Regions from separate parts of the Homo sapiens genome. Here region 2 is linked to region 1. A link means that fine-mapping ties the variant in region 1 to the expression of a gene that starts in the linked region. Tissue or cell type: whole blood. Region 1 holds a variant in brackets; the other region holds the start of a gene. All regions are shown on one strand. Distances are between the middles of the regions.

Region 1 (5,260 bases):
GGAGAATCAGTTGAGCCCAGGAAGTAGAAGCTGCAGTGAGCTGTGATTGCACCACTGCCCCGTAGCTTGGGTGACAGGGAGACCTTTAGTTATTCTAAATAAACACATAATATTCACTAGTGTACTAGAAAATGTTCTTATATAGGGCATATAGATGAAGAAAGAGTACCTGGACTTAAAGAACATGCTTTATGGTAGAGGAGATAAGTAAACAGGGAGTCACAGTACAAGTACCATAACGAAGGTATAAACATAAAGCTAAAGGAGCACAGAGAAGGAGTGTCAGACAAGACTTCAAAGTAAAAGTGAGTTAAGTGAGTTGGTCTTAGGGCTGGGGGCATAGGAAGAGTGTGGGGACACTCTCATTGAGGGAATGGTAGCCTGGCCAGATTTGCTTTTAAAAACTTTATTAGAGGCTGGGCGGGATGGCTCACAGCAGGAATCCCAGCACTTTGGGAGGCCAAGGTGGGAGGATCGTTTGAGCTCAGGAGACGGAGTCTGCAGTGAGTCGAGATTGTGCCACTGCATTCCAGCCTGAGTGACAGAGCGAGACCCTATCTCAAAAATAAACAGAAAATCAAACATTAGTAAAGGCCAGGCGCTGTGGCTCAAGCCTATAATCCTAGCACTTTTGGAGGCCGAAGCAGGGGGATCACCTGAGACCAGGGGTTTGAAACCATGCTGGGAACATGGCAAGACTCCAAGTCTACAAAAAAAAATTTTTAAATGAAAACATTAGACGGGTGTGGTGGCTTGCACCTGTAGTCCCAGCCACTTGGGGGGCTGAAGTGGGAGAATCACTTGAGCCCAGGAGGTGCGGTGAGCCAAGATTGTGTCACTGCACTCCAACATGGATGACAGAGTGAGACCTTGTCTCAGAAAATAAAAACAGGCTTGGCATGGTGGGCTCACACCTGTAATCCCAGCACTTGGGGAGGCTGAGGCGGGCGATCTCTTGAGCTCAGGAGTTCGAGACCATTCTGGGCTACATGATGGAACCCAGTCTCTAAAAAAAATACAAAAAAATGTAGCCAGGCATGGTGGCATGTGCCTGTGGTCTCAGCACTTGGGGAGCTGAGGTGGGAGGATCACTTGAGCCTGGGAGGTTGAGGCTTCAGTGAGCTGAGATTGAATCACAAACAAATACATAATAAAAGTTAGACAGAGGGTCCCACTATGCTGCAGGACACATCATAGCACTTATGATACATTGAAATATCAAATTAGGGCGAAATTTAACATGACAATTACAACATTAAGTTTTACTTTTTAAAAGTTTTTTGAAACTCACAGCCAAAAGAAGCCTAAAGTGACATGACAACAAAATGTAATGTGGTATCCTCTGTGGGATCCTAGAACAGAAAAAGACCATTAGAGGAAGTCTAAGATAATCTGAATATAGTATGGACTTTAGTTAATAATAATGTGTCAGAGTTGGCCTCCCAAAGCATTGGGATTACTACCTACCCACCTGGTGTGAACCACCCACCACACCTGGTTTGCCCGTGTTTTTTGTAGCCAACTTTTCAGCAGCAAAAGTGTGACTCTGGTGTCAAATATTGAGAAGCCAGGCAAGAAAATTAGGTGGTCTGTTACTTTAAGCTTTAAAAAGTTTCATATAACCTTAATGGATATTTTGATGTTATTTTGTGTTTACCTTTGAGCTTTTAAAATGAAAACTAAATGTATGTTTGAATCAACGCCATTTAAAATAAATTTCTGGGCTGCGCATGGTGGCTCACACCTGTAATCCCAGCACTTTGGGAGGCTGAGGCAGGCAAATTGCTTGAGGCCAGGAGTTCGAGACTAGCCTGGCCAACATGGCGAAACCCTGTTTCTGCTAAAAAATAAATAAATAAATAAATTGGTCTGGCATGGTGGCTCACACCTGTAATCCCAGCACTTTGGAAGTCCGAGGCGGGCGGATCACGAAGTCAGGAGATCAAGACCATCCTGGCTAACACAGTGAAACCCTGTCTCTACTACAAATACAGAAATTAGCTGGGTGTGGTGGCATTTGCCTATAGTCCTAGCTACTCGGGA[C/T]GCTGAAGCAGGAGAATCGCTTGAACCTGGGAGGTGGAGGTTGCAGTGAGCTGAGATCACGCCACTGTGCTCCAGCCTGGGCAACAGAATGAGACTCTGTCTCAAAACAACAACAACAACAACAACAACAACAACAAAAACAACCAAACAAAAATTAGCCGAGCCTGGTAGTGCATGCTTGTAATACCAGTTTCTTGGGAGGCCGAGGCACAAGAATTACTTGAACCCAGGGGGCAGAGGTTGCAGTGAGTTGAGATCGTGCCACAGCACTCCAGCCTGGGTGACACAGCAAGACTCTGTCTCAAAAAAATAAAAAATAAAGTAAATTTCTGATTAAATATTTTGAATTTTATTTTAAAATGCAGTAAGTATGAAATTCAAAAGAAAAAAATGCAGTTAAAAATAGCCTACCTCGGCCAGTCGCGGTGGCTCACGCCTGTAATCCCAACACTTTGGGAGGCCGAGGTGGGCAGATCACAAGGTCAGGAGTTCAAGACCAGCCTGGCCAATATGGTGAAACCCCATCTCTACTAAAAATACAAAAATTAGCCAGGTGTGGTGGTGGGTGCCTGTAGTCCCAGCTACTCAGGAGGCTGAGGCAGGAGAATGTCTTGAACCCGGGAGGCGGAGGTTGCAGTGAGCCGAGATGGTGCCACTGCACTCCAGCCTAGGTGACAGAGTGAGACTCCATCTCAAAAAAACAAAAAAAAGAAATGAGTGTCTAAGAGATATGAGAGGTAGGCTGTATATATATATATATATATATATATATATATATATATATATTTTTTTTTTTTTTTTTTTTTTTGAGACGGAGTCTCACTCTTTCGCCCAGGCAGAGTGCAGTGGTGCTGTCTCGGCTCACTGCAAGCTCCGCCTCCTGGGTTCACACCATTCTCCTGCCTCAGCCTCCTGAGTAGCTGGGACTACAGGCACCAGCCACCATGCCTGGCTAATTTTTTGTATTTTTAGTAGAGACGGGGTTGCACCGTGTTAGCCAGGATGGTCTCGATCTCCTGACCTCGTGATCCGCCTGCCTCGGCCTCCCAAAGTGCTGGGATTACAGGCGTGAGCCACCGCGCCCGGCCTAGACACCCATTTCTAAGAGTTAACTTCTACTACAAGCTTCTAATGTATTCTAGAGCTGCTCTGTACATGTTTTTTAGTTTAGTTTTGAAAATTAACATGCAGTAGTATTGACTTATTTGATATGGATTTCTATGAATTTATTTTTTGATAGAAATATATTTTTTTTAATTTTACTTTAAGTTCTGGGATACATGTGCAAAACATGCAGGTTTGTTGCATAGGTATACATGTACCATGGTGGTTTGCTGCACCTACGAACCCGTCATCTAGGTTTGGTTTGGTTTTTTTTTTTTTTTTTTTGAGATGGAGTCTGGCTCTGTCGCCCAGGCTGAAGTGCAGTGGTGTGATCTCGGCTCACTGCAGCCTCCGCCTCCTGCATTCAAGCGATTCTCCTGCCTCAACCTTCTGAGTAGCTGAGATTACAGGCGCCCGCCACCACACCCGGCTAATTTTTTTGTGTTTTTAGTAGAGACGGGGTTTCACCATGTTGGCCAGGCTGGTCTTGAACTCCTGACCTCAAGATCCACCTGTCTTGGCCTCCCAAAGTGCTGGTATTACAGGCATGACCCACTGCGCCCAGCCTCGTCTAGGTTTTAAGTCCCGTACGCATTAGGTATTTGTCGTAATGCTTTCCCTCCCCTTGCCCCCCACCCACTGACAGGCCCCAGTGTATAATGTTCCCCTCCCTGTGTCCATGTGTTCTCATTGTTCAGCTCCCACTTAAGAGTGAGAACATGGGGTTATTTATTTTTGAGACAAGAGTCTCACTCTGTCGCCCAGGCTGGAGTGCAGTGGCGACACCTTGGCTCACTGCAACCTCTGCCTTGTAGGTTCAAGCGATTCTCCTGCCTCAGCTTCCTGAGGACCTGGATATCAGGCGTGTACTACCACACCCGGCTAATTTTTCTATTTTTAGCAGAGATGGGGTTTCTCCATGTTGGCCAGTCAGGTCTCAAATTCCTGACCTCAAGTGATCTGCCTGCCTTGGTCTCCCAAAGTGCTGGGATTACAGGTGTAAGCCACCATGCCCAGCCTAGTTCTATGAATTTTAACACATTTATAGATTCTTATAACTGCCACTACAATCTGCCTATGGAACAGGATTTTAATTTAAGTATTCAAAAAATACATTTTTTAGAGGTGAAATACAGAAATATTTAGCCTGTTTTCACCATTTTTCAAAAAATTTAAGTACAATTAAGATACAGTGAAATTCGCCCATTTACATGTACAGTTCATCAGCACCATAAGACGGTGAAAAAAAAGTACAATTTGAGTATTGACAAAACGCATCATAGTGCAGCCACCACAACAACCAGTGTATAGCTTCTGACAATCACTGATCTTTTTCTTTTCTTTAGCTTTGTTTTTTCCAGAATGTCCTATATATGGAAGCCTTTTGAGTATGGCTTCTTTTCACTTAGCATAATTAATTTGAGATTCATCTCTGTTACTACTTGTATGAATAATTTGTTTCTTTTTAGTGCCAAGTAATATCTCATTGTATGGGGTATACCATAGTTTTTAAAGTTCATTTCTCAGTTGACATTTGGATAGTTTCTAGCGTACAAATAAAGTTGTTAAAAACATTCACAGACAGGTGTTTTAAGTTGAGTGTACTATTTTATGTTCCCATCAGTAATCTATGAAAGTTGCTCGTCTGAAATTTTATCAGAGGAGGGCTCACGCCTGTAATCCCAGCACTTCGGGAGGCTAAGATGGGCAGATTGAGCCCAAGAGTTCGAGACCAGTCTGGGCAATATGGCAAAACCCCATCTCTACCAACAATACAAAAATTAGCTTGGTGTAGTGGCGTGCACCTCTAGTCCCAGCTACTCGGGAGCCTGAAATGGGAAGGATTGCTTAAGCCCCAAGGAGGGTTGAGGCTGGAGTGAGCCATGATGGTGCCACTGCATTCCAGCCTGGACAACTGAGAGAGACTGTCTCTCCAAACAAATGAAGTGGTATTAGGTTGTTTTTTTTTGTTTTTGTTTTTGTTTTTGAGACTGGAGTCTCACTCTGTCACCCAGGTTGGAGTGCAGTGGCGTGATCTCGGCTTACTGCAACCTCTGCCGCCCGGGTTCAAGCGATTCTCCTGCCTCAGCCTCTTGAGTAGCTGGGATTACAG
Region 2 (5,000 bases), 140 kb after region 1:
CTCAGCTGATCCACCCACCTCAGCCTCCCTAAGTGCTGGGATTACAGGCTTGAACCACCACACCCAGCCACACCTTTATTTTAAAGGAGGAAACTGAAGCTTAGAGATGTTAAGTACAGTCAGCCCTCCATATCCAACCAGGGATCAAAATATATTGGGCGCGGTGGCTAACGCCTGTAATCCCAGCACTTTGGGAGGCCCAGGTGGGCGGATCCCAAGGTCAGGAGTTCAAGACCAGCCTGACCAACGTGGTAAAACCCCATCTCTATTAAAAATACAAAAATTAGCCATGCGTGGTAGCGCACACCTGCAATCCCAGCTACTCAAGAGGCTGAGGCAGGAGAATCGCTTGAGCCCAGGAGGTGGAGGTTGCAGTGAGCAGAGATCACGCCAACATACTCCAGCCTGGGTGACAGAGTGAGACTGAGATTCTGTCTCAAAAAACAAAACAAAAAAACCCCTGAAAATGTTACATCGTTGCTGAGTTATACAATGTAGTTAGGCTTACGATGGGTGCATCTATACTGAACATCTACAGATAGTTCTTTCTTATTATTCCCTAAACAATTCAGGATCACAACTATTTACATGGCATTTCTTTTTCTTTTTCTCTTTTTTTTTTGAGATGGAGTCCTGCTCTGTCACCCAGGCTGTAGTACAGTGGCGCGATCTCAGCTTACTGCGAACTCCGCCTCCCAGGTTCAAGCAATTCTCCTGCCTCAGCCTCCCAAGTAGGTGGGATTATAGGTGTGCGCTACCACACCTGGCTAATTTTTGTATTTTTAGTAGAGATGGGGGTTTCACCATGTTGGTCAGGCTGGTCTCAAACTCCAGACCTCAGGTGATCCACCTGCCACGGCCTCCCAAAGTGGTGGGATTACAGGCATGAGCCACCACGCCCAGCCGACATGTCATTTCCATTGTATTAGGTATAAGTAATCTAGAAATGATTTAAAGTATGTATAGGTTATATGCAAATATTACACCATTTTATCTCAGGGGCTTGAGCACCCACAGATTTTGGGGTCCTGGAACCAGTTCCGTGAAGATACCAAGGGACACCTATAACACGTCACACATCAGGTCATGGTGACGTCAGGCTTTGATGGCCCCAGAGCGTATTGGACCTGGGTTCATATCACTAGTGGCACGATGGGCAGTGCCTGGGAATGGTGCAACAGGTACAACAGAAACAGGGTACAGGGACTGCCTGAAAATCGCACTTGGGTCCTAATCCTAGAATTGCCAACTGTGAGGGCCTGAGAAGTTGCTCTCTGTCTGTGCCTCAGTTACCCCACGAGTCTAGGTGTGGATACCACTGCGGGGGGAGGGGCAGGAAATCTCACCCACCCAGTCACTCACATCCTCTCTGCTCCACCTGGCTTTCCTCAAGTGCCCCTCCCCTAACTCAGCATCCCCAAGAGGCCACCTCCTGGACAGATAAGGATGAAGTTCACTGGTCCTGGACAGTGGACCCTCTCCTCAGCCCCACAGCTCCCAGGCAAAGCACCTGCAGCTGGCACCGCCTGCTTCCTGGGTGTTCTCAGCAGGCTGTCCGCTGCCATGGCTTGCTGGGAAGGGGAGTCTGTCTGCACAGGAGTGTTCGGCTCCCTGGTGAATTACCTGTGCATGTGGCCCCTCCTGTTTACCCTAAATTGAGGGAGTATAGTGTATGCTTCTACTGAATACAAGCACTCGCATACAGAAACAGGGATGAGGAGGCGAGTCGCAGTCTCTCATGCCACCCTACACCGCCAAAACAGCCAGAGGGGACAGCAGCCTCTTCAAGACCCTAGCTCCGTTATCTTCCACTAGGTGGCACCCCCCAACTCCGAGTGCCAAGGGGAGAGGAAATTCCCAAAAGGGGAGCCAACCTAGCTGCAAATGAGCAGGAAAAAGTGGCTGGGAGAGGCGGAAGCTAGCTCGTCCCACCCGCAACAAGAGGAAGTAAGGAGGAGCCAGACCAGGTTCAGTCACCACTCCCAAGTCCCTACTACCTTCGAGAAGCCAAGGTCTCAGGTCTCGTTCCCAGGCCCTCGGAGCTCCCAGCCCAGGGTCGCGCGCCCCTCCGGCTCCAGGCCGCCGCGGGAACCACCCACCACCACCAGGAGAGGGGAAGAAGCCAGCACCTACCGACAGGGGTGGAGCTGGGTCAAGAATGGTGTGGTCCCTGCTTTGGGGGAATGCTGGGGAGGTAGAAAGCCCCTTCTAACGGGGCGTCACTGCAATTACTGCTTCCTCTTTCCCATAAAACTCCCCCTAGTGTATCAGAACCCCCAAGGAGTTTCAGTAAGCGGTTCTTCTGTTGTCTCCGGCTGAGACTCCAGGGGAACCTCAAGCTCACATGGCCCTGGCGGGCCCCTGGGCAGGAGCAGGCGAGAGGTCTGCGCGGCCGCTCTCCTACCTGCGTCCGACTCCGCGGTCCTTGGGCAGCAGCAACCGGGTAGCGCTCAGACTACAGACCCCAGCGCGATGACCCGCCTACCTCAGTTTCCATTGGCCAGGGATCAGGGCTACCCGCTCCCATTGGCTACTTATCAATATAGAGGTGGGGCCAGCCTGGAATGCTGTGTTTCTTTTCTACTCAAATCACTCTCCTCCCTGCTTCCTCTCGCCCCACACCCCATTTCTAGGGATCATGTGATTGGAGAATCATGTGACGTCGGGACAGCCTCAGCAGGGCAGCTGGTGCTCGTCGCCTTCCTTAACCCATCCTGCAGGCGCCTGGGGGAGTTTGCTAGAGATGATAGCGCGTGTCTGGGGCATTGACAGTGCGAGGGAGTGTTATGAATTGGGAATATTTGTGCTCGCCTTTCTATCCTTTTGTTTGTTTGTTCTGAGACGGAGTCTCACTCTGTCGCCAGGCTGGAGTGCAGTGGCACGATCTCGGCTCACTGCAACCTCTGCCTCCCGGGTTCAAGCGATTCTCCTGCCTCAGCCTCCCGAGTAGCTGGGACTACAGGCGCGCACCACCACGCCCAGCTAATTTTTGTATTTTTAGTAGAGACGGGGTTTCACCATGTTGGCCAGGATGGTCTCGATTTCTTGACCTCGTGATCCGCCCACCTCGGCCTCCCAAAGTGCTAAGATTACAGGCATGAGCCACCGCGCCCGGACTTGTGTGTTTGTTTTAGAGACAGGGTCTCGCTCAGTCGCCCAAGCTGATCATAGCTCACTGCGGCCTGCAACTCCTGCTCCCAAAGCGATTCTCCTACCGCAGCCCCCCAAGGCGCTGGGATTACAAATGTGAGCTACTGAGCTGGCTCGCTCCTATCCTATCCTGCCCTGTCTTGTCCTGTCCTGTCCTGCCCTATTCTGCCCTATTCTCCAAACTCGGTTGACATGCTAGGCAGGCCCCAGAGTGAGTTGAAGGATGGTTTCCAGGACAAAGATAAACAGCCCCAAAGCCCTTTCCTCAAGGTGCTCAGCAGGACAGGGAGCAGGGATTGGTGGGAGACAGTCTCAGGCTGAATCTAATTTAAGATACAAGGTTGTGCGCCAGTTGCCAGGTGTAGGGAGAGGAAGTAGATTGTCTCCAGGTGGGGAAGAAGAGATTTCATTCCACCTTAGGAGCATCTCCTTGAGCTGAGTCTGGGAAGATTTTAACTGGCAGGTGGAGGAGGAGGTGTTGGGAAGAGCCCTGGGAAACCAGATGGGAAGGGCAGGCTTGGCAGGGATTGAATGCCATGTTCAATGCCAGTGGGCTTCAGGAGCTGCTGGGTGCCTGGCACGGGCTGGGCTGTGGTGGGGGCTGTCGAAAGAGAAGTGGCTTCCTAGTCTCCAGATCGGCCCTGCCTTCGAGGAATTGATATGGGAGGGTGAGGAGAGAAAATGTACCACAGAACAGATTAGCCAGTGACAAGAGTCAGCCTGCTTGGTGCCAAAGGGCCTGGGCCAGGCAGAGATGGATGATGGGAGATGGGCCAGGAGAGAGGAGAGGCCCAGGGAAAGCCTGATACTGGGCCGTGGAGGAACGGCAGTGTCTGCACAGGGGATGGAGACTGCTGCAGCCTGAGCAAGGAACTGGAGCTGAGGATGAGGCAGGGGCAGGGGGATGGCTAACCAAGCTCGAGGCAGCAGAAGTCGGAGGAGGGAAAGGGTGCCAACCGAGCTGTGGAGTCGTGTGGCAGGGGTTCTAAGCCTGGAGCTAGAGCAGACCCAGACAGCGGATAAGACACCTGGCCTGCTGAGGACCTAGTACTAGTCTGTGCCCTGGTGACACATTTGTGCTTATTTTCCTTCCTGTGTATCTTGAGACTAGGGAGTATAGTTTATGCTTCTATTGAAACACACACACACATGAAACTTTCATGAAATGTTAGGTGAATCGATCAATAACCTACTAATTACAACCACCCAGAACCAGAAAAAAATACAGGTAGAAGAAAAAAAACCTAAACAGACTGAAACAAATATCACAAAGTCTAATCGTCAAAGCCGTGATTCTTGAGCAGCGGCAATTTTGCCGGCCAGGGACATTTAGGAGTGTCTGGAGACAATCTGGGTTGTCACAACTCAGGGTGGAGGGACACTGGCATCTGGTAGGTAAGGGCCAGCAATCCCACTAAACATCACACGACACACAGAACAATCCCCCACAACAAAGAAGTATCCTGCCCAAAAGGTCAATAGTGCTGAGACTCAACAACCTACTTCACAAATGTTTCTCTCTCTCTCTCTCGCTCTTTTTTTTTTTTTTTTTAACATCAGAAGGGTAAGGTGCCACGATAACGAGGTCTGTAATTCCCTACTCAGGAGGCCGAGGCAGGAGAATCGCTTGAACCCGGGATGCAGAGGTTGCAGTAAACCGAGATCGTGCCACTGCATTCCAGCCTGGACAACAGAGCGAGACTCCATCCACCCCCGCCAACACAAAAAAATTAAAGTGTACAACTCAATGGTTTTTAGTGTCTTAAGAGAGTTATGCAGCATCATTACAATCAGTTTAAGACCATTTTTATCACCACAGAAGGCAGCCTTATGTCCTTTAGCAGTCACCC

What was found. PIP is the estimated chance that this variant, and not a neighbour inherited with it, causes the effect.
Region 2: it holds the start of GRN, and the variant in region 1 is fine-mapped to the expression of GRN in whole blood (TOPMed, PIP above 0.99).

What each region holds. Positions count from the first base shown.
Region 1 is chr17:44,480,746-44,486,005 of GRCh38, reverse strand. All of the region lies in intron 1 of GPATCH8 (G-patch domain containing 8), which reads left to right. Among named protein-coding and RNA genes, the nearest start is that of GPATCH8, 20 kb to the left of the region's middle. The variant C/T (reference allele first, on the strand shown) is at 2,044.
Region 2 is chr17:44,342,739-44,347,738 of GRCh38, reverse strand. GRN (granulin precursor) reads right to left here and starts at 2,437. Exons shown (of 13, transcript NM_002087.4): 1 at 2,405-2,437. RefSeq lists enhancers at 2,165-2,314, 3,466-4,391.